Linked DNA regions of Homo sapiens. The protein of the gene in region 2 interacts with the protein of the main gene of each other region in a biochemical or structural test. Each region holds a gene or a part of one and is shown on either strand. Other genes may lie near its edges. The genes, in order: CRKL and GAB2.

Region 1 (11,729 bases), on a different chromosome or scaffold from region 2:
CCTGAGGTCAGGAGTTTGAGACCAGCCTGGTCCAATATGGTGAAACCCCATCTCTACTAAAAATACAAAAATTAGCCGGGCATGGTGGTGGGCGCCTGTAATCGCAGCTACTCAGGAGACTGAGGCAGGAGAATCACTTGAACCCGGGAGGTGGAGACTGCAGTGAACCGAGATCATGCCACTGCACTTCAGCCTGGGCGACAGAGCGACACTGTCTCAAAAAAAAAAAAAAAAAATTCAATTCCAAGATGAGCTAAGTACTTCTCTAGTGAAACTGCTTTAACCACCATTCTTTTTTTTTTTTTTTTTTTTTTTTTGAGACGGAGTCTTGCTCTGTCACCCAAGCTGGAGTGCAGTGGTGCGATCTTGGCTCACTGCAATCTCTGCCTCCCAGGTTCAAGCCATTCTCCTGCCTCAGCCTCCCGAGTAGCTGGGACTATAGGCGCACGCCACCATGCCTGGCTAATTTTTTATATTTTAGTAGAGACAGGGTTTCACTGTGTTGGCCAGGCTGGTCTCGAACGCATGAGCTCAGGCAATCCACCTGCCTCCGCCTCCCAAGGTGCTAGGATTACAGGCGTGAGCCACCATGTCCAGCCAGTAACCACCATTCTTTATCACTGACCAGCATTTAATGCCCAGGTCCCCTCCCTTCTGTCCCTGGGCTTTCAGGCCATCACTAATGGCTCCTCCTCCTATGCTTGTGGCTGCCTCTCCTTCCGCAGCTTCTCTTTCTCTACTTATTCCTGTTCTGCCTCCTCATTCTGGGTGATCCCATCTAAGCTGCGATTCCCAAATCTATATGTATTCAGCCCTTACCTCTCTTCTCAATAACAAACCCATCAGATTGCTAAATACCACCTGGCTTCCAGCAGGTACCTCAAAGAAAGATTCTTCCTGTTGAAAAGAATCACGCACCCACCCTAATCCCTTTCTCTTGTCTCAAAGGCACCACTCAATCCTCTCTGAAGTCATCATACCTCTCCCCTCACCTTCTATGTGCCACTTTACATTCCTATGGCATTTGATCTTGGCTCAGCTTCTCAGGGTCCCTCTCCAGTAACAGAGAATTAGTCCTTCAGATCTTTCCCCACCCAGAGCAGTTTCTCAAAAGTAAAACTCATCAGTTCTCCTTTTAAAATCTGACAGTTCTCTTTTTAAAAACTTTAGATGGCTCCCATTGTTAAGCTCATTTACAAGGCTGAGGAGGCCCTTTACAAGTTGGCTTTATCTTTCCTTCCTAGGTTCCTGCCCATCATCTACATTAATTATAACTGTGTCTTTACCAGCAAGCACTGCCACCATCTCTTCTACCACCACCTCTTCTACCTCGTATACTTGTTCTCATCCTTAAAGAATCAGTTGAAGAGCATCTCCTCTTTCAAGCCTCTCCCCACCTCTTAGGTACAGTTGATTGCCTTTGCTTTTAAGCTGTCATGGCATTCTAATTTTTTCAATAGACCAAAGCTTCTCAAAGACAAAAATCAAAAACAAAAACATGGTTTACTTCCATTAGATTCCAAGAGTCTAGCAGTGAGCTTTGGTATATTGTAGGCCTCTATATATCAAAGAACTTCCCTTTCCTATTTCCCTCCTTTTTTGTTTCTGAAAGCACAAAAGCTCAGGTATTCAAATTACCTAACTCTGGTTTAATACTGTCACAAAACTGGTGTGACAGAATTCGAATACCGTTGAGTGTGCACCTTCAAAGCCTCTTCTCATCCTCTTCCACTGTTCTTGTCACGTTCATTCCAGGTGAGTTGCTATGTGCCTGGTGGCCCCACCCAACTTGTTATGATTTTAGCTCAGATTCAACTCAAGTTAATCTGAACTCCCAACTAATAGGCTGTGCCCCCTTTTACTTATCTGAAAGAATTAAAATAATGTTTTTTGTTTGTTTGTTTTTTGTTTTCCGAGACGAAGTCTCGCTCTGTTGACCAGACTGGAGTGCAGTGGCGCTGGCGCAATCTCGGCTCACTGTCATCTCTGCCTCCCAGGTTCAGTCTCGAACTCCCGACCTGCCAGACCTCCCAAAGTGCTGGGATTACAGTCGTGAGCCACCACGCCCGGCCCAGAATTAAAATATTTTAATCTTAAAGACCCTCAGAAATCTAGTCTAATCATTCAGATCAAAAGGAAAAATTTAGGTCACAATTCTGTGGATTTGAGTTTTAAAAGTCACAAATCGAATGGCTACTAGTACTTTCCATGGGAACACAACTCTTTTTTTTTTTTTTTTTTTGAGACGGAGTCTCGCTCTGTTGGCAGGCTGGAGTGCAGTGGTGTGATCTTGGCTCAGTGCAACCTCTGCCTCCCAGGTTCAAGCGATTCTCCTGTCTCAACCTCCGGAGTAGCTGGGACTACAGATGCATGCCACCACGCCCAGCTAGTTTTTGTATTTTTAGTAGAGACGGGGTTTCACTATGTTGGCCAGGATGGTCTTGATCTCCTGACCTCATGATCCGCCCGCCTAAGCCTCCCACAGTGCTGGGATTACAGGCGTGAGCCACCACATCCGGCTGGGAACACAACTCTTAATTGGACAAGATTCCATTCTCAGCATGACAGTGTTCTTGTTTTTTGTTTTTTTGGAGAGAGTCTCACTCTGTCGCCCAGGATGGAGTCCAGCTGCACGACCTCGACTCACTTTAACTTCCACCCCCCAGGTTCAAGTGATTCTCCTGCCTTTAGCCTCTTAGGCACACGCCGCCATGCCCAGCTAATTTTTTGTATTTTAGTAGAGACAGGGTTTCACCGTGTTGCCCAGGCTGGTCTCAAACTCCTGCACTCAGGCAATCCACCCACCTTGGCCTCCCAAAGTGCTGGGATTACAGGCGTGAGCCACTGCACCTGGCCATGTTCTTGTATTTTTCTCTGAATCAAATTCACATGATTTTAACTACTGGTCAGGAGAAACGCAAAGGGGTTTATTCACAGAGTTGAATTCTATGCTGATTAAAATTACTGGCAATCCTTTCCCCATTCCAAATTATGGAAGTCTAGATTTGAGTTCTTAAATAATTAGAACAGGGGATGTAAAGAGGAGGCACAACCATGCTTCTTGTTTCCTCCTGTCCCTTCAGGGATTGGCTTCTACTTCACAGGTGTGTGAGGCTCCTCTTCTGGGCTCTCAGGTTAGACTAAGCACCCTTTCTCAGTTCTCCCACAGCTGTTTCACCATGCATGGAGATTAAATATATTAAATATATACAACTTACATTCATTCATTCATTCATTTTTTGAGACAAGGTCTGGCTCTGTTGCCCAGGCTGAAGTGCAGTGGCATGATCATAGCTCACTGTAGCCTCGACCTCCCATGCTCAAGCAATCTTTCCACTTCAGCCTCCCAAGTAGCTGGGACTTAAAGGCGCATGACACCATGCTCAGCTAATTTTTTAATTTTTTGTGGGAATGGGGTCTCACTATCTTGCCAGGGCTGGTCTCAAACTCCTGGGATCTAGCGATCCTCCTGCCTTAACCTCCCGAAGTGCTGGGATTACAGGCACGAGCCACCGAGCACAGCCAACCTTTACATTTTTTTTTTTTTTAGTAGCCAGGCGCGGTGACTTACGCCTGTAATCCCAGCACTTTGGGAGGCCGAGGCGAGCAGATCCCCTGAGGTCAAGAGACAGAAAACCATCCTGCTCAACATGGTGAAACCCCATCTCTACTAAAAATACACAAATTAGCCAGGTGTGGTAGCGCGTGCGCCTGTAGTCCCAGCTACTTGGGAGGCTGAGGCAGGAGAATCACTTGAACCTAGGAGGTGGAGGTTGCAGTGAGCCAAGATTGCACCACCACACTCCAGCCTGGCAACAGAGCAAGACTCTGTCTCAAAAAAAAAAAAAAAAATGCCAGGCGCGGTGGCTCATAACTGTAATCCCAGCACTTTGGGAGGCCCAGGCGGGCGGTTCACGAGGTCAGGAGATCGAGACCATCCTGGCTAACACGGTGAAACCCCGTCTCTACTAAAAATACAAAAAGTTACCCGGGCATGGTGGCGGGCACCTGTAGTCCCAGCTAACTCAAGAGGCTGAGGCAGGAGAATGGCGTGAACCCAGGAGGCGGAGCTTGCAGTGAGCCAAGATCCCGCCACTGCACTCCAGCCTGGGCGACAGAACAAGACTCCGTCTCAAAAAAAAAAAAATTTTTTTTTTAGTAACCAGTAAGCTCCTCAGAAGCATGATAGGGCTGTCTGATTCAATGTTGGTTCCATATTACCAGGTACATGTAATGCTCAAAGTCTGCTGAGTACAGTACATTATTTTCTTGAAGGGCCAACTTCCTTTAGTTTTTAATGGTAAAATTTTATTTATTCTAATTTTTCTTCATAGCCTGAATTTATCTATCGACACAAGCTAGAAATGGAAAATGTCAAACAAAGCAAGCTACCTTCTGAAGCATTCTGTTGTTAAACTGGAAACAGCCCTTATTAAATAAAAATACACTAGAGCTAGGCCAGGCGCAGTGGCTCACACCTGTAATCCCAGCACTTTGGGAGGCCCAGGCAGGTGGATCACTTGAGGTCAAGAGTTCAAGACCAGCCTGGCCAACATGGTGAAACCCTGTCTCTACCAAAAATACAAAAATTAGCCAGGTGTGGCAGTGCATGCCTGTAATCCCAGCTACTAGGGAGGCTGAGGCAGGAGAATCTTAAACCCCAGAGGCGGAGGTGGCAGTGAGCCCAGATTATGCCACTTCACTACAGCCTGGGGGACAGAGGGAGACTTGGTCTCAAAAAAATAAATAAAATAAAATCCACCATAGGAATACCACAAATACAAAAAGCAGTTAAAGATAAAAACACAGAAGATAACAAAGTTACAAATAGACCAAATCATCCCTTCTTCCCTTTCCCTTCATCCCCACCCACCAGCAAATCAATTTTATCTCCAAAATAGGCATCTCCAAGTCACAGCTCCACTGTCACTATTAGTCACCATCATTTTGTAGCTGGATTACAATAACAGCCCCAGGTCACTCCTCTGCCTCAAATTCCTTCCTTGGAGCCCACAGCACTTTAAATAAAAACCCAATTCCTGACCCTGATCTTTATCTCCAAACTCATTTTATATGTCCCCCTTTCTCCTTTAAGAAACACACTCCCAGGCCGGAGAGGGTGGCTCACATCTGTAATCCCAGCACTTTGGGAGGCTGAGGCAGGTGGATCATGAGGTCAAGATATAGGGACCATCCTGGCCAACATGGTGAAACCTTGTCTCTACTAAAAATACAAAAATTAGCCGGACATGGTGGCGGGTGCCTGTAGTCCCATGCAGTCCCAGCTACTCAGGAGGCTGAGGTAGGAGAATCACTTGAACCTGGGAGGCAGAGGTTGCAGTGAGCCGAGATTGGGCCACTGCACTCTAGCCTGGCCACAGAGTGAGACGTCATCTACCAAAAAAAAAAAAAAAAAAAAAAAGCCGGGCGCAGTGGCTCACACTTGTAATTCCAGCACTTTGGGAGGCCGAGGCGGGCGGATCACTAGGTTAGGAGATCGAGACTATCCTGGCTAACATGGTGAAACCCCGTCTCCACTAAAAATACAAAAAATTTGCCCGGCATGGTTGCAGGCGCCTGTAGTCCCAGCTACTCGGGAGGCTGAGGCAGGAGAATGGTGTGAACCCAGGAGGCGGAGCTTGCAGTGAGCCGAGATCGCACACTCCAGCCTGGGCGACAGAGCAAGACTCCGTCTCAAGAAAAAAAAAAAGAAAAAAGAAAGAAAGAAAAGAAACACACTCCCAACACAATGGACTTTCTCACCTCAGGACATCTACATAAGCTTTTCCCTAAACTTGGAAGGCTCTTCTCCTCCTCTCAGGCCAAGCCTTGCCTAGGCTGGGTTCTTCTTTACCCTCAGGTCTTAGCTTCATGCTTTCTCTGACCACGCCACCCCAGGTAGGTCCCTCCTGTATATTGATCTTACTAGTACTTTATTTTTCTACTTTTCAGTCTGTCTTCTCCACTACAGTAGGAGTTCCACAGGAAGAAAGTATGTCTGTCACACATCTTTCCCAGTACCTACACTGGGTTACACTGGGTTATAATTCTCTTATAAACATTTGAATAAAAATATAAAATTAAAAATTATGAAGCATTCTAATGAAAAGGATAAGACTATAACAATGCAAGCCACCAGTCCTTAAATTTCGAGTAGGACATTATTGTTACAAATTTTAGCTATGCAAGATAAACCAAAATATTAGCCAAGAGGCATGAAACTCTGGCTTTAAAAGCTCAGTTTTGATGCCTGCAAAGTTAAGCCACTAAATGTACCCTGTTTGGGATGCGAAGAAGCATTACACTGAGTTTTCCGTTTGGCCCAGGCTCTAGTAGTCACTAGCTTTCTATAAAAGGCTAATAACATGTTAAACCTAAGCCATGAAAACCAGGCTTGGGAGTGGCAATTCGAAGATTCAGTATAACAAAGTAAACTCAGTCAGGATCTAATTCAACCAGCATGGTGATCTCCTTCAGAGATACCTAGGAAAATGAAAAACTAAATTAAAGCAACAGGCCTGAGGCAGAGGGCACAGAGAAGGAGAAACAAAGCTGAACGTGAGGGGTAGGGTCAGAGAAAGGCCCTATAATCTGTGAGGGGACTGGAACAACAGGTAGGATTTCAACAGATGGAGAGTGAGGTGTAGTTAAGGCAGTCAGTGAAGAGCCAACAGCTGGAGCAAAGGTGCAAAGGTACAAAGGTATGAGTAAGGAAGGATGGCTACCAGGGAATAAGTGAGCAGCCTAGTACAGCTGCAGTAAAGGAAGGACGAAAGAGGGCAAAGACAGAATTACATGCTTGTTCTCTAAGAAGATGCATGCATGTACGGAAAATCTGGAGGCGATTCTGTGGATAGAGAGAAGCGGCATACTTCTTTTCCTTCCTCTAGAAGGAGACTCAAGTCATTAACTTTTTCCTTTTTTTTTTTTGAGACAGAGTCTCACTCTGTCACCCGGGCTGTGCAGTGGCGCGATCTCGGCTCACTGCAACCTCCGCCTCCCGGGTTCGAGCGATTCTCCTGCCTCAGCCTCCCGAGTAGCTGGGATTACAGGCACCCACCACTACGCCCAGCTAATTTTTTGTATTTTTAGCAGAGACGGGGTTTCACCATGTTGGCCAAGATGGTCTTGAACTCCTGACCTCGTGATTCGCCCGGCTTGGCTTCCCAAAGTGCTGGGATTACTGGCGTGAGCTACCACACCCGCCCATTAACTTGCTTTTTGAAACAGCTGTATTATTAGTACTCATGACCTCAACATAAGCATATGCATGGCTTAATGAATGCCTGGTATTAATTATATAATTCACGCTCACAAACGAGAGGAAGAATTTATTCAGTCATATTACAAATCTCACTACAGTGGGTTCTAAGATTCTCAACTCCTTAAATTGGAATTATATTGTGCTCAAAGTTGACTGCAACTACCAGCATCTGCCAGGAACCGCAGGTTTCACCAATCAGATTCTTGGTGTCCTGGTCTTTGTTATACAGTATTTGATTTATAATCACTTTCTCCCCACTTTTAAAGTCCATTTAGTTCAGTAGTTAATCTTGTAGTCATTATACTGTCATGGCTTTTTTTTTTCTATCTCTATCCCACTATGCAAACAGTTGGTGTCCTCAATTATAATAGCTTTTAATGTTTAAAGTTTAGAGTAATACCCGGTCGACAAATCCATAAAGTCATAAACATCTAACCCTGGAAAAACTGTATCAACACCCAGTCCTTTTAAAATAGATGTTTAAGAAACGAACTGGCCAGTTTGTTACTTTAAAAATTCTAGGCAACTTTTCAACTCAAATTTGGGATAATTTAAATAAAAGAAACCTCTGATAAAATCAGTGTTACAGGGCAAACACAACAATAAAAGCAAATCTCTGCTAAAACGCTTAAGGCAAATTAAAGCAACTAATCAATTAAAATAACGTATTTCACTTGGAAAAGAGAATGCTTGGTCACTTTGCGTTAATTTTAAAATAAGAAATACAAAATCATTAGACTTAACACAAAAAGCATGTCTGAAATTGAACTAGGATACAACTAAGTGTCATTCAAAAATTTTCCTTAATAACATTCTAGCCTAATTCCACCTTGGAAATTAACCAGACTGATCTCTGGCCTACTAATGGTCCTCGGGGAGAAAATATGCAATAAATTTTCCAAAAAATATCCTCGCTGAAGCCAATGCACCTTCTCTTATCTTTGTAATTAACGTACTATAAAAGTGGTGGTGTCTGGCCTGCTTCAAACTTGGCACCACAGTATCAATATACAGTTCTGATATTTTGGTTAAAGGTTTTTTTGTTTCTAAACGCTAAAGCATTTTCATTTTTTTGACTGTTCCAAAGGCTGCAGTCCTGGAGTTCTTAACCTGGAGTTCAGAGATCTGGAGGGAGTACAAGCACCCGGGATGGTGTGCAAACTTGTGTGTACGTGCCTTTGGCGGGGAGGGGTGGGGGTGGGGGTGGGGGTGGGGTGGTGAGTGCTCGGCTATCTTCAGATTCTCAAAGAAGTCTATGGCTTAAAAACGGTTTTTGGCCGGGTGTGGTGGCTCACGCCTGTAATCCCAGCATTTTGGGAGACCGAGGCAGGCGGATCACGAGGGCAAGAGATCGAGACCATCCAGGCCAACATGGTGAAACACCGTCTCTACTAAAAATACAAAAATTAGCTGGGTGTGGTGGCGTGAGCCAGTAGTCCCAGCTACTCGGGAGGCTAAGGCAGGAGAATCGCTTGAACCCGGGAGGCGGAGGTTGCAGTGAGCCGAGATCGCACCACTGCACTCCAGCCTGGCGACACAGCGAGACTCCGTCTCAAAAAAAAAAAAAAAAAAGAGGTTTTTAGAAAAACCAACAAATCCCTGCATCAGTATTACACCCAGAGAAAGTCACGAAAGGCAAAAAGCGTGCATTTTAACTATGCAACCACCGTTAAACATTCAAAACGCATCCTCTTCACATTGAGAAACAGCCTCGTGAGAGGGAAAAAAAAAAAACGCATCCTCTTATCCAGTGACCCAGATCCTGACACTAGCTTTCTGTTAGGAAGGCCTTCTGGAAAATAATTTGGTTCAGAATGCGGGGAATATGGGTTCAAGCGCGCCCCACCCCCCTATACAAGCACTCTTCGACAGACCCGGTTCTCGACCTTCCTCCGCGGTCGGGGAGGGCTCTCGCGTACCTGGGCGCAGGCTCGATGAGGGTGGTGGTGTCCAGGTAGTGGATCTTGTAAAACTCCAGCAGGGCCGGCAAATGGTCAAATTCCTGGTCCCCGATCTTAAAACGGCGGTTGGGCAGCGAGTTGATGATGTAGTGGGAGACCCGCGAGTTCTCGGACACCGACAGCACATAGTCCCCAGGGCAGGTGGAAGAATCGCGGACGAGGAACATACCGTGGCGCTGGCCCTGGAGCCGGGTCTGCGCCTCCTGGCGAGACACCGGCCCCATATACCAGGCGGAGCGGTCCGAGGAGTCGAACCTGGCGGAGGACATGGTGTTGGACCGGGGACTCTGCGGCGGTAGGGGCGGCGGCTGTCCTCGCCTGCTCTGCACGCCTTAGCCCGGCAGACGGCTTTGGGGCCGAGGAAGGGCCTCTCGCACACCTCGAGGAGCGCTCAGAGGGCTGGGCCAGCACTTTCCTCTCGGCTCCGGGCCCGCAGCATCCTCCGACGCCGCCCGCCTGCTCCGGGGCCGCCACACGGAGAGAGCCGCCCGGGAATGCACGGCAGAGCCGGGGGGTCGGGGCAGGCAAACCCGAGCCGCAGCGGAGGCCACCCCGGGGTTCTCGGGCTGCTCGGCGTCCCAGGGGTGCCTCCAGTGACTCCCGGCCTGGAACGCGCCGGCGCCGCAGCTCGACGGGTCTTCACCGACCCCCGCCGTCACACGAGGCACCGAACTCGAAGGAGCGTCGCGCCTCCGGGGTGCTTTTGCCCAGCTTGTTCCCAATAGCCACAGCAACAAAATGGCGGACGCGGGAGAAGCGGCAGCCACCTCCCCCTCCGCTCAGCGCGCTCCGTCTGCGCACGCGCTGGGCCCCGGCTCCCGGCGGCCGCCGGGGCCCTCCCGTTACGTCACACAGCGCAGCCAATCAGGAGCACCGTCGCGACGATCAGGGTGGGCGCTGGTCGCGCCCGCTCCCGCGTTCCAGGAGGAGGCTGAAGAGGCGCCGGCGGTAGGCACTCTCTTCCTGGGCCGCTGCGCGCCGCTGGGGGCGCTGCGGCTGCCGGGTCTCCCAGCGCTGGCAGGAAAACAGCTGGAGCCGAGAGGGAACCGCGTTTCGAAAACCTGCTTCTGGGAACAAAGCGTAACGTGCAGGCTGAATCGCGGGCCAGGGAGGCGTGGCACTGAGGCGACCTGGCCAGCCTAGGGGCCTGAGGGAGGTCAAGGACTGACAGGTCCCGATGGGCCGAGGTGGCCCAGTAAAAGGATGAGCCCAGGGGCAGATGTGACCACCAGATAGGTGACTGACTGAATGACTCAGTCCCCAGGTGGCCTGATAGGCTAAGGAAGCCCTAGTGGCTACGTGACCCGCTAAATGGAGTGAGAGGAGAGAGAAGGTGAGGGTTAGATTGACTCAATTAAGTGGTCAAGGAAGTCCACAAGTGGGTAACCTGGCTATCATGGGCTCTGAACTGCTGAAAGTAAAATACAAATGCCTCTCGGGCGTGGCCCCGAGGCTTCCCCTGCCCCGGATTATGCCTGCTTCTGCCTATTTATTAATCCCTATTTGTTTTTGTTTGTTTTCTTTCTTTCTTTCTTTCTTTCTTTCTTTCTTTCTTTCTTTCTTTCTTTTCTTTTTTCTTTTCTTTTCTTTCTCTCTCTCTCTCTCTTCCTTTCCTTTCCCTTTCCCTTTCCTTTCCCTTTCCCTTTCCTTTCCTTCTTTCGACGGAGTCTCGCTCTGTCACCAGGTTGGAGTGCAGGGGCGCGATCTCGGCTCACTGCAACCTCCGCCTCCCGGGTTCAAGCGATTCTCCTGCCTCAGCCTCCCGAGTAGCTGGGATTACAGCTGTCCGCCGCCATGCCCTGCTAATTTTTGTATTTTTAGTAGAAACGGGGTTTCACCATGTTGGCCAGGCTGGTCTCAAACTCCTGACCTCAGGTGATCTGCCTGCCTCAGCTTCCCAAAGTGCTAGGATTACAGGCGTGAGCCACCGTGCCCAGCCTGTTTGTTTTATTTTGTTTGTTTTTGAGACAGGTTCTCCTTCTGTCACCCAGGCTGGAGTGCAGTGGAACTATCATGGCTCACTGCAGCCTTGATTTCCCCATCTCAAGGGATCCTCCCACCTCAGCCTTCCGAGTAGTTGGGACTACAGGCTCGCGCTGCCATGCCCAGCTAATTTTTTTGATTTTTTTTTTTTTTTTTTTTTTTTTGAGACGGAGTCTCGCTCTGTCGCCCAGGCTGGAGTGCAGTGGCGGGATCTCGGCTCACTGCAAGCTCCGCCTCCCGGGTTCACGCCATTCTCCTGCCTCAGCCTCCCAAGTAGCTGGGACTACAGGCGCCCGCCACTACGCCCGGCTAATTTTTTGTATTTTTAGTAGAGACGGGGTTTCACCGTTTTAGCCGGGATGGTCTCGATCTCCTGACCTCGTGATCCGCCCGCCTCGGCCTCCCAAAGTGCTGGGATTACAGGCGTGAGCCACCGCGCCCGGCCTTTGATTTTTAATAGAGACGAAATCTCACCATGTTGCCCAGGCTCGTCTCAGACTTTTGAGCTCAAACAATCCTCC
Region 2 (12,726 bases):
TGTGTTCAGAGCTTTGTATACCACACTCTTTCAGCCCTGGTATGCCACACCGTGAATTTAGTGTTCACTTACAATAATCATTTTGAAAACATGCATGGAAAATACAGAGGAACTGTGAACTGCTAAAATCATTTGTCTGGTTCAGGAAAGTTTCAGAGGAAAATCTCGGGGCTTTTTCCTAGAATGTTATGAAAATATTAAATTATACTGATTGCTGCCAACATATTTTCTAACCATTCTAGGAAAAGAAAAAACAACAAAGTTTCCAGCTCTTACTCTAGATTGACACTGGACCTTGGAGATGCTTGCAGGTAATTTGACTGCACCTACTTTCCTTTTTTGGTTAATTGTGTTAAATGTGCCTCATAACTTACATTCCCGGTGAGGCTGTCATTTAGAAGGGGTGGGTGGGGGCTGAGGGGAAGCTGTTTTAATTCTGGCTTTTGTTTCAGCCACTAAATGTAATGCCACATGATTGTTGACCCAACAATAATCCAGTTAAAAAACAGTCTTCAGAGTTACTACATCATCAGAATTAACCCTGATTACATCAAATTATGTTGAAACAGACCACAGCTGTTTGCCCTGTTGAAGCAACTGCTTGAGAGCTCCTCCGGAAGATACATCTGGGTGTCACTAAGATACATTTTGGGTTTAGTTTTGTTTCTCAACACAAATGTAGGAGGGAAACAAACCCTGTTCTGCTGGGGTGCCTGGTGGGAGCTGAAAACCTTGTGATTCTCCAGCAGTCAAAAGTCATCTCAATTACCAAAGAGAAGGGAACCTGAGATCTTTTGTTTCAGTTTTCTATAGGAAGGATGTAAGAGGAAGGAAATTCAAATCTGTTGAGTATTGCTCTTGCCAGCAAAAAGAAGTGGAACTGACTAGTGAGATGGTGGTGAGATTTTCTTTGGTGGCTGTGTGCAGTGGTATCAACCCAGGAGAGTAGACTGTTCAATTGTGAAGAATTTTGCAAGATGGTTGTTAAAGTAGAACATCGTTAAAATTAAGTTGTAATAAAAAAAGGGAAATAAGCATTGGAAAAGATGTGGACAGATTGGAACCCTCATACATTGCTGATGGGAATGTAAAATGGTGTAGCCACTGTGGAAAAAAGGTCAGCAGTTCCTTAAAAAGTTAAACAGTGTCACCATATGACTCAGCATTTTCACTCCTAGATAAATACGTAGATTGAAAACGTATGTCCACACAAAAACTTGTACAGGAATGATCGCAACAGCATTATTCATAATAGCCAAAAAGTGGAAACAACTGTAATGTTCATCAGCTGATGAATGGATAAAATGCGGTATATAAAGAACTGTCAAGTGCTTCAACATGGATGAAACTTGAAAACATTATACAAAGCGAAAGAGGTTAGACACACAGGTCACATATTGTATGAATATGGTTATGTGAAATGTCTAGAATTGGCAAATCCATAGAGATGAAAAGTAGGTTAGCGGTTGCCAGCTGATGGGATTGGGGGAATGGAGAGTTGCTAATGGATATGGTGTTTCTTTTGGGGTAATGAAAATGTTCTGGAATTAGATAGCTGTGGTGGTTGTCAAAGTTGATGAATATATTAGAAACCATGAATTATAAACTTTAACATGGTGACTTTTGTGATACGTGAATATCTTAATTAAAAATTAAGTTATATAAACTTATAATTAAATAAGTTATATTAAAAAGAAAGGTAGTAACTACCCCAAACTCATCACTTGGCTAATTACATTTTACTATTGTGTTCTTGGTGTTATTTATGTCTATTGTGTCTTTATGTTGGAAATACTAAATAATGGTGTATTACTGTGTATCTCTTAACTCTGTATTCAAGGACATTAACTTGATAGCTTAAAACTGGCCATGGCTGGCAGAGTATTTATGCCACAACAGTTGGCATATACTGTAAATCAAGGCACCCACCAACACCACCAGGGAGCCAATTTTAAAATATTTGCCAGCACATCATTGGCTATATTGTCGGACAATCATCTTGGGTAATTCTGGTAGAATTATATAGTTAGATGAGGTGAAATCCTGAGGCCTCTAGGTTCCCAGCAAAACAAAGACTAGCAAGCCTGCACAGTTACTATGCAATTTATCAGGTGCAGAAGGAAATGACGTTTCTGGTCATCTGTTGAATAAAGCCACTTTGAGTTCAGGGGACATGGTTTTCTCCAGCTTCACTAGTGTTGCATCTGGTACAAGGGGTTAAGTGCTAAACCCCTGTAGGATTGTCACAGTGAAGCCAGATAACAGAGTAACCGCAAAGAGATTTAATTCTGTAGTCCCACAAAGGAGGGTGTGTAAAGAGTGTACAACAGTGTCAGAGTTTGGAAACCAAGGGTTGACAAAGTTGGTTCTCTGGAATCTGGGGGTACCAGTTAAAAGGTTAAAAGGAGTCATTGTTTTCTGAAACTATCCAAGAGTTACAGCCATGTTTTTTTGTTTTTGTTTTTGTTTTTAAGATTTCGGGGGAATCTTATTTTCTCACATGTTTCTGGAATTTTTCTTTTTTTTTTAATTTAAGTTCCAGGGTACATGTGCAGGATGTGCAGGTTTGTTACATAGGTAAATGTGTGCTATGGTGGTGTGCTGCACCTATCAACCCATGACCAAGGTATTAAGCTCAGCAAGCATTAGCTATTTTTCCTAATGCTCTCCCTCCCCCAACCCCCTACCCACTCACAGGTCCCAGTGTGTGTTTCCCTCCCTGTGTCCTGTGTTCTCGTTGTTCAGCTCCCACTTATAAGTGAGAACATGCGGTGTTTGGTTTTCTGTTCCTGTGTTAGTTTGATGAGGATAACGCCTTCCAGCTCCATCCATGTCCCTGCAAAGGACATGATCTCGTTCCTTTCTATGTCGAGTTACAACCATTTTTAAAAGTGGAACTGCACAGGATTACCTCAGCCTGCTAAGTCCTTCCAGCTAGGCCGTCCCTGTGGGTTTAAACGCAATGTAAAGAAAGTGGATGTTAAGTGTTCTTACCACAAAAATGATAACTATATTAGTTAATGCATTTGTTAGTTAGCTAGATTTAACCATCCCACAGTGTATTTTATGTATTTGTATTTATATTTCAAAACATCATATTGTACATAATAAACACATCGATGTTATCTGACAATTTTTATTAAAAAAAACCACTCCAGCCACTTATAGGTACCTTCACAAATACTATTCTCTGGTTTGTATGGATCAGAGAGTTCTAGATGTTCCAGTAGTCTACAGCCCCAACCTGTCATCCTTTAAGGGTTGGTTCCTTCATTCTCACAATGAACATTTAATGAGCATCTATTCTGTGCTGGTACCATGCTGGGAAGCTCTGGGAATACAAAAATGAGGAAGGGCCAGATGTGGTAGCTCATGCCTGTAATCCCAGAACTTTGGGACACCAAGGCAGGAAGATCACTTGAGCCCAGGAGTTTGAGACCACTCTGGGCAACATAGCAAGACATTGTCTCTAAAAAAATAATAAGTGAGAAAAACACATTCATGTCTTCAAGGAACTCACAATTCCTCGACAAGGAAATATTTGCTGTACAGTGTGATAATCCAATTTATATAAGTGCAGTGTGGATACCAAGAAAAGAGTGAACAACTTTGCTGGAGAATGGGGACAGTCAGTTTTAGGGAAAGAGGTCTTGACGTATGTTCAAGATCTAATTCAAGGTAGGAGTTCTCTCTGCAGAGCAAATAAAAGGAGCCAGCATTGCAGAGTGTGGTTTGGAAGACTACAGCACTTTCTCAAGGATCTTGACAGTCTTTGTTCTTGGTGGATTATGACAACTGATTTACCAGTGTCAGCAGCAAAGTCGTGGGAGCCTAACTGCCACAGAGCCATTAGCACTGATTCTGGTTATTTTCAAAGGAGAAATTGGGAAAATGGGATTGCTCAAGCTTTTCTCTAAGAAAGTTTTTTTTTGTTTGTTTGTTTGTTTTTTGAGACAGAGTCTCACTCTTGTCGCCCAGGCTAGAGTGCAATGGTGCGATCTCAGCTCATTGCAACCTCCACCTCCCAGGTTCCAGCAATTCTCCTGCCTCAGCCTCCCAAGTAGCTGGGATTACAGGTGCCCGCCACCACACCCAGCTAATTTTTGTATTTTTAGTAGAGTTGGGGTTTCACCATGTTGGCCAGGCTGGTCTCAAACTCCTGACCTCAAGTGATTCACCCGCCTCAGTGTCCCAAAGTGTTGGCATTGCAGGCATGAGGCACCGCACCCGGCCAAAAGTTTATTTTCAAAATGTCTCCCACTGGGTATAGTGTCAAGTAACTCTCAGACTATTAGCCACAGACAGGGAGGAAACCCAATTAGGTCTTTAACCCCACCCCATTCCCACTTCCAGATCTCATCCTCAACCAGATGCCCAGAGTTGACTTGAGTAAGTTAAGGTAATTTGATATAGGGAACCATGTGGGCCTCAAGTAACTAGGGGTTAAAGAAGCATACACCTTTATATGCCTGAGAGATGAGTGTCCTGAAAGACACCAGCTGAGGTGGTTCAGCTGGTCACACTGACCTTCGTAAGCAGCACTCAGTTCTGAAATTAACCTGTCAACTAAATTGAAGGGGAGAAAAAGCAGAAGGGCTAGCACACAAACATCCATCCCCACCCCCAGTCCAATCACTGACGTCAGGCCTGGCGTGGGTGGTATTAATCACACAAGCTTGGTGTGCAGTTGAGGACAGCTCTCCTTCCAGCCCTTCAACCCGTTTCTGAAAGCATTCCACCAGCCATGCACCTGCCGCTGGCCACAAACCCTCAACTCCCAGACAGGCACGGATGCAGCGACGGATGTCCCTGACGACACTCAAAGCCACAGTGCACCCTTTAGAACCCCAGGCTTTGTGGGGAGTGGGAGTAGCTATGAGCGGGGGCCAAAGTGGTACCCATGCTCTCCCAGTGTGCATTTCTCTAATCTCTGCAGTGCTCCCTCCTCATAAGATAGTCATTTCCTGAGAATTTAATAAGAATATAAGATTAATGACCCAAAGCACTCTTGGAGCCGGCGATTAATTCCCCCAGGAAATACCAGTGGTCTTTAAACAAAATTGCCTAAATTATGGGCTAGTGATGCATGTCCGCTCAGGGCTTGGGGGTGGGGGGATTGTCACCCCAACTGGTTCCGATAGATGGCGCCTATCTTCATGTAAATCATTCAAATGATTTGTTTTCCATTTTTTTCCCAGCAAAAACCGGGGACCATTTAAACAGACACACACAGCAGGGAGTGGAGAGGACTTAGTAAAAGCCCAGACAGGAACTTTCCGTCCAAGGGTTGTTTCCAGGCCTGGCACGCCTCTCAGGCTCAAAAGACTGAGCCACTCCAGGGTGCAGCCAGGGACTTGAGCAGCAGTCTTGCTTCCTATGCACAGCCCGAGATGGGCACTAGCAGCAAGAGGGACGCAGGGTGGGAGTCCAGCTGAAGAGCACAGTAAAAAAGCCCCTTTCGGCCGGGCTCACGCCTGTAATCCCAGCACTTTGGGAAGCCGAGGCAGGCGGATTACGAGGTCAGGAGATCGAGACCATCCTGGCTAACATGGTGAAACCCCGTCTCTACTAAAAAAAAATACAAAACATTAGCTGGGCGTGGTGACGGGCGCCTGTAGTACCAGCTACTAGGGAGGCTGAGGCAGGAGAATGGCGTGAACCTGGGAGGCGGAGCTGGCAGTGAGCGGAGATCACGCCACTGCACTCTAGCCTGGGCAACAGAGCGAGACTCCGTCTAAAAAAAAAAAAAAAAGCTCCTTTCTTTAACCTTTGGGGAAAGATGGGGGTGTTCAGAGAACCCTTCCCAAAGTCGATACCTGGTGACTGTTGTATTCATATTTCAAGGTCCCTCCTGCCATTGGCCAAACAAGAAACATCAAACTTTTCCATTTCCACATGAAATTGTAAATAACACCATCTTTTCCTAAGCAAACAAAATAAGACTTTAAGGAATTTCTGGCAGAATATGACCTAACCCCCACTAACTCTTGCTAAACAGTCTTCCAGTCTGTGTATTGAATCATGTAACTATCAAAGGATACGTAAGACTACTCTTCTGGGGGAAGATAGGGCATACGTATGCCTGACTTGCATCACAAACCTCAGCTGCAGCCAAACCATGCAGATTTCTCCGACTCTGCAATCTCTGGGACTTGGCACCATGACTCAGATGTGAATGAAGTCAGGATAGTTTTATTTTGGTTGGAAGTCACCGCCTCCTGATTGATTTGGCAGACGTTAAGTGTTGTTTGTCTTACAGGGATTTAAGGTACTTAAAGCCAGAAGTTAAAATGGCCATCATTCTGGTGGTGGCCCTTCATACGTGACTTAAGGATCCCTAAATTGTAAGGTTAAGGGAGCTGTGGTCCCAGCCTACCAGTTCTGGCTTTACTTCCCATCCAGCAGCACACTGGATATTGAAGAAAGTCAGTGAAATGTTAGATCCAGGGGACTGACCGCTAAAACTCCCAGGGTATCTAGAAGAGCTAAGTACGTGGTAGGGGATTCGCTTTTCCAAATTGAGGAGGGTGAACTTCCCCCAACCCAATCAAGATCTTTTGGACCAAATGATGTCCAACTGCTTGAAACAACTCAGCTGCACAGAGACAGAAATAAACAAAACAGCTTTAGTCTGAGGTTGTGTGGGGCACTGCAAGATGCTGCTTCTCCAATTCATCTGTCCACACAGCACGGTTCCCCATTGAATAAACAGGTTACTATCCACTTATCAGAGAAGTTAGGGAGGACCTGCCTTTTAATGCTGCTTAGAGAGACACTTTGTGATGAGAAAAGAGCTCGTACAAAAGATTTTTTTCTCCCCCCTCCCGCTGAAGTGCTGGGGTTGTGTGCTTCCACGTACATCTGGGATACCATTATATTTACAAACAGAGGTCTCATAGCCTGTGTCAATGAGCGGGAACGTTGGGGAATTTGGACCCCAATTTCTTGTTCTTCTGCACTTGACCTTGCCTTCCAATTCGTTATGAAATACATTGACTAGTTTTGCTTCTTCCATTCTACAAATCATGCGAATTTTCTATACTAAACTGTGTTTTCCCAGAGGCAGTGTAGGAGGGAGTCAGCTGGACTTGGTTTCCAGGCAATGAGAGGCTCCCAGGTCGATCCCATTAAGGCAATGCCCTCATTTTGAATAGCAGATGACCGGGACCCCTCCTCCCCCACACACCTGAATTGGAAAATTGGCTCGGCTTTGTACAAGCCCTTGCCCTTAGGCTGTCCATAAAATAGGAACAATACTGAAGACAATCCTGTAAGCTACAAAAGCAAAGGCTCCGGCGCGTAGTAGGTCCGTCTCCTCCTCCCGCCGAGGGACGCCAGAGTTAAGGAGCTTCTTGCTGGGAAGGGGTCCCTCCTTTCAGCCGGAACCTGACCCGCAGAATGTATCGGAAATGTGAGCAGCCCTAGTATCCCTTCCCCGTCGACGCTCGGTGAAAAATCGATCGACGACCGAGGGCGCGCAGTCCCTTCCCCTCACACCCGCCAGCGCCAGGGGCGCGGTCGCCTCCCTGGCCTCCGCGCCCGCGGCTTGGGGCCTCAGGAGAAAGCGAGACTCCGGGGCGCGCCGGCGGCGGTGGCTTTCTGTATCCTCGCGGGTCCCTAGCCCCGCGTCCGCGTGCGCGGCGGCCTCGGGGGCGCGGCGGGAGCGGGCGTGGCGAGCGAGCCGGCCTTCCTGCTGCAGCTGCTCCCCCGGCGGCCGGGCGGAGAGTGCGGATTGCGCGCGCTCGGGGCGGGGGAGCGGGCGCGCGCGAGGCTGCCGGGCTCGCGCCGCGCCGCGCCGCCTAGTCCCCGCCGGGCCGCCCGCCCCGCCCCTGGCCTCCCGCGAGCTGCGCACCGCCGGCCGCTGCCCCAGCTGCCCGAGCCCGCGCCCTCGTCCGCGCGACCCGGCGGGGGGCTCCAGGCCGGCAGCATGAGCGGCGGCGGCGACGTGGTGTGCACCGGCTGGCTGAGGAAATCGCCTCCCGAGAAGAAGTTGAGGCGCTATGTGAGTGCGGGCGCGGCCGCCCAGGGGCGGGCGGGGGGCGCTCCGGGGCCTGCGGAGGGGCGGGGGACTCCCGGAGGGGCGGCAGGCTGGGGAGCTCGGGCCCGGAGCCGCGGGGGGCCGGGGGCGAGGAGCGGCCGGGGGCGTGTGGGGCACCTGCACACCTGTCACAGGTGGGCCGCCGAGGGGCGGGGCGGGCGGCAGGTTGAGGCTGCGGCTCCTGCTCCGCCAGGCGGGTGCGGCTGCGGCGCCTCCCAAGCCGGTCTGCTCGTGAACTAAATACAGTGTCGAAGTTTTGTATTGATGGCTTCTGGAGACCGAGAGAGTTGACTCTCGGGGCTGGGGCTCCGCGGCAGCCCCGAGCAGCTTCAGCCCGCAGGGTCGGGGAGAGGGCGGGAAAGGGGGGCGTAGGCTGTGGGGCCGCGCGGACGGCCCCACAAAGGGCGAGCGCCTCACGCCCTCTCCTTCCCTTTCTCCGCCTGCCCCTCCCGGCCGCCGGCCTCCCTCCGTCCGCGGCTGCATCACCGGCAGCGTCAGCGGCATGTGCAGCCCTTGTATTAAGTGACTCATTTGTTTGTCCCCCTTCTTTCCCTTTATTCCGTTCGTCTCTCACAGGCGCCTCCCCCCGACCCCGGTGTGACACTGCAGTTTGGTCCCCGTGGCTGGCCCGGGTTTGGGACCGGGCAGCTCCCGGGTGTCTGGGGTCGGGAGAGATCGAGGCTCTCCGCGGCCAGGTGTTGCCAACCGACAGTGTTTACTGAGATCGCTGGAACAGCCTTTTCCCTCTAGGTGGGGAACTGGCAGCCTGGGGGAGGTGGAACAGCGTGGCGCTGAGCCGTGGAGTTCTGGCTTTTTTTTTTTTTTTTTTTAACCCCTCTCCCCAGAGGATGCCTTGCCTGGTGAGGTCAAAGTACAAGATGGTGCCAGTTACTGAGATTTGGCCGAAATGGTCTTGGGGTAGTCGCGGGAGTTTGGAAGTGGGGGTAAGGTTGCTGGAAGGTTTCAAGGTCTCTCATCTGCTCCCTCTCCGTTTCCCATGAAATGCCCTTGTTTAACGGGCTGTGGTGCCGAACTCCGGGATCACTCCCACAGCCTGGAAGGGAGCCGTTGCCTCCAGCTGCAGTGCATCAAGGGAGCTCGGAATAGACCCTGCCCTCTGTCAGCTGCACCAGTGGCTGTCCATGGGGGGAGAGGCAGAAGCCTACCAGAATTTCCTGTCTTGGCTCCCCAGATCAGAATCAAGGGACTTCTGGCCTCTGGACTGAGGAAGTGACATTCTGTTTTTCAAAGGAAGTGTTGTTGTTGCGGAGTACAAGTGTGTGTCAATGAAATCAGGCTCTTAGGTAGATGTTTGCTGGGGGAAAAAAATCTAAGGATTTAGCACATGAGTTTTGAAAGTGGACGTGGATTTATAGGAGGAATGAAGCAGTGAATTGTTCATCTCAGTTCGGAAGCTCATTTTTAGGAGTGTCTATGTAGCCAAAGTATAATTATTAAGAAATAAACTTTTTTCCTCTTCAGGGTTGTATCAGTTCGTTAGGAAGGTTGAATATTTTAATTAGGATTAAGGAGCAGTGATTTACTATTAACAATTTTATAAATAATTTAAAAACTTTGTCCCGAAGAGCTTCCAAAAATTATCTATACAAATAGATTTCCATACAAGCTAGTGGAATACAGTGTCCACAGTAAAAAAAAAAAAAAAAAAAGTGACCCTTAATTTTCAAGTTTGAACACTATACACTAAAGAACCTTGAAAGTTGTTTTTGAAACAATTTGCAAACAGTATGACACTGTATCTACATTTGACTTATCGCTCCTTGAACTCTCACCCAGACTCTATGACCCATTTCTTGGGTGTTTTTGTTCCCAAACAACTTTAGTTCAAAATAACCAGGTTTGGAGGCATTTGGGTCAAGCACCTTTTTCACTGATTTGAACGAATCTAGTCGTATGATGGCCTTAGCCTCTCTTTCCCATCTTCCATGTACCTTCAGCCCATCAGGTGTCAGACCTTAACAGCTTTAAGTAACAGCTTTTCTTAGGTTAGGATGTGATGTGTTCACTTACATGACTGGAAGCCTCTGCCCCTTCGGAAGTTCAGTTTCCCCCTAACTGAAACTGGTGATATGTGTAACCTTAAGCCTCTGGGGAACAGTATGCCTTTACATCTACTTTTCTTTTGGGGTATTCAGAATTTTTGCATCCTGTTGTAAGTTAAAACTCTGCTAGTTTGCTTATTTCAGTAGAGGCCCGAGTTCATTAGAACCAAGCTTGGAAAGTATTTCCCAGCCCCATGGCTGTATATTTACCCCAAAGTAGCTGCTGCTTCTGGTATACATCATAGGCGTGTTATATTGTAGATTGAGAAATCCTCATTATAAGAATACATCGAGCATATGTGATAAGGGGAAAAAGTAGTTGAACTAGGTTATAACTATTTAAAACGATTTTTTAAAAAACTGACTTAATTTGAAGTCTGGGCGCAGTGGCTTATGCCTGTAATCCCAGCACTTTGGGAGGCTGAGGCGGGTGGATCACTGGAGGTCAGAAGTTCGAGACCAGCCTGGCCAATGTGGTGAAACCCCGTCTCTACCATAAATATAAAAATTAGCTGGGCGTCATGGAGGGCATCTGTAGTCCCAGCTACTCAGGAGGCTGAGACATGAGAATCGCGTGAGCCCGGGAGGCTGAGGTTGCAGTGAGCCGAGATCGTACCACTGCACTCCAGCCTGGGTGACAAAACGAGACTCCATTTCAAAGAAAAACAAAAAAACTTACTTAATTCGGAAAGACGGGAAGGTGTAGAGGGGAAAAACATCTTAGAAGAAGCAAAGGCAAATGTTTGAGCAATTAGTTTTCAGGGATTTTTTTCATCAGCCTTTTCTAGTTAATTAAGTATAAGTATAAGAGACCTATCTGCTATTTACTGAGTGCCCTGGAGAAATTGCAAAAAGTGTCTCTGGAAAATGCTGACTATTGCCTCTGGGGCATCCTGATATGGCTGCAGTGGGAGGCCGGCAGAAGTAACAACCCTCCCATCGTGCCTCAGTGTATTTGTGTGTGTATGCGCGTGCATGCAAATGCATACACACGTACATGTATATAATTATTAAACAGAATTTTCTTGAGGAAAAACATTTTATTAATATGACCTACACTGCATTGTAGTTTTCTATCAATTTCACTGGATTAAAAGATTGAGGGAATAAGATTGGCAGACTACCCCCTAGTGGCTAACTTGAAGAAAGTTGTGCACAAATTGTAAAGAACTACTGCATTAAGGTAACAGTAATTGTTTATTTCCATTATATTTATTAAATATACTTATTAAATCTATGTCCCAGGCACTGGATCAGGTGCTTGGAATAAAAATCCAGTAAACAGAAAAAAAAATTAATCCAGTCTTTCAGTCTTAGCAATGGCTTTGCCTTCTCCTTCAAAGGAAAATTGAAATGATGAGGGAGTAGTTGTCTGTACGTACGATGAATGGCCACATTTTCAAATTTACTTGTATCTGCATAGTTCCTTTCTTTCTTCCTTTTTTTTTTTTTTTTTTTTGAGACAGAGTTTCACTTTTGTTGCCTAGGCTGGAGTGCAATGCACGATCTGGGCTCACTGCAACCTTTGCCTCCTGGGTTCAAGCGATTCTCCTGCCTCAGCCTCCCAAGTAGCTGGGATTACAGGCATGCATCACCACACCTGGCTAATTTTGTATTTTTAGTAGAGATGAGGCTTGACCACGTTGGTGAGGCTGGTCTTGAACTCCTGACCTCAGGTGATCCACCCGCCTCGGCCTCCCACAGTGCTGGGATTACAGACAGACATGAGCCACCGCGCCCAGCCTGCATGGTTCCTTTCTTGTTTCCTTTTCTTAGAGTAGATGAAGTGCCACTTCTATCTGAGCTAATCCTGCTACTTATACTTTGAATCATATCTTCTCCTCCCTACTCAAATAATTCTTATCCTGTAACACATCTTCAACTTCTTTCCCTCTCTGTACTACCTACTTTTTTTCAGGGATAAACTTGGTGGTGGTTTATGCAGTCTTCCTTTCTCCCACCTTCTTCTCAGTCGGCTCCAGTGGAAACCTACTTTGTTATTCACCAAAGCTATTCTGACAAAGGCACCAGCGATACCCAGGTCACTAAACTCAGAGGATGATTTTTTACTCCTCATTTTAATTAATCTCTTCACTGCTTGGTCATAGTTGACCACTCTTTTTTAAAACACCTTCCTCTTATCTTGGCTGACACTATAAATGCCTGTTATTTCTCCTTTTCTGGCTACTCTATATTTCCTTTGCTAGACTGACCCTTTTATCCAGTCCTTAAAGGTTGAAGCTCCTTTATAGTCATAGTGGCTGTGTGGTTTCTCCCCTTTGGCAACCTTGTCCATTCTACTGGCTTCAGTTATCATTTGCATGGTGGTCATCAAGTTAAATTTCCATCTCAGAGTTGTGTTCTGAACTTCAGACTTACATATCCAACTGTTAACTGGGCATCTCTATTTGAATGTTTCCCAGTCAACACAAACTCACCACTTCCAAAACTAAACTCTTCTTTGTTCATCTCTTCACTCCACATCTGCTCAGTAAACAGTGCCACTAAGCACCTACTTGCTCAGATGAGAAACTTGGGCATCATCTTTGACTCCCCGTCACCCACTATCCCACATCTAATCTGTCACCAAAACCCATTAGTGGTATCATCTAAATATCTTGTTAT

Evidence for each region.
Region 1: the proteins of GAB2 (region 2) and CRKL interact in a test that uses a peptide from one of them, tested with the Homo sapiens proteins (one study listed by BioGRID).

Annotation. Positions count from the first base shown.
Region 1 is NC_000022.11:20,915,700-20,927,428, reverse strand, and holds the start of CRKL (crk-like protein), read right to left. Parts: upstream 10,023-11,729; 5' UTR 9,495-10,022; coding exon 9,184-9,494; intron 1-9,183. UniProt on the Homo sapiens protein: May mediate the transduction of intracellular signals.
Region 2 is NC_000011.10:78,412,922-78,425,647, reverse strand, and holds the start of GAB2 (GRB2-associated-binding protein 2), read left to right. Parts: upstream 1-7,827; 5' UTR 7,828-7,927; coding exon 7,928-8,002; intron 8,003-12,726. UniProt on the Homo sapiens protein: Adapter protein which acts downstream of several membrane receptors including cytokine, antigen, hormone, cell matrix and growth factor receptors to regulate multiple signaling pathways.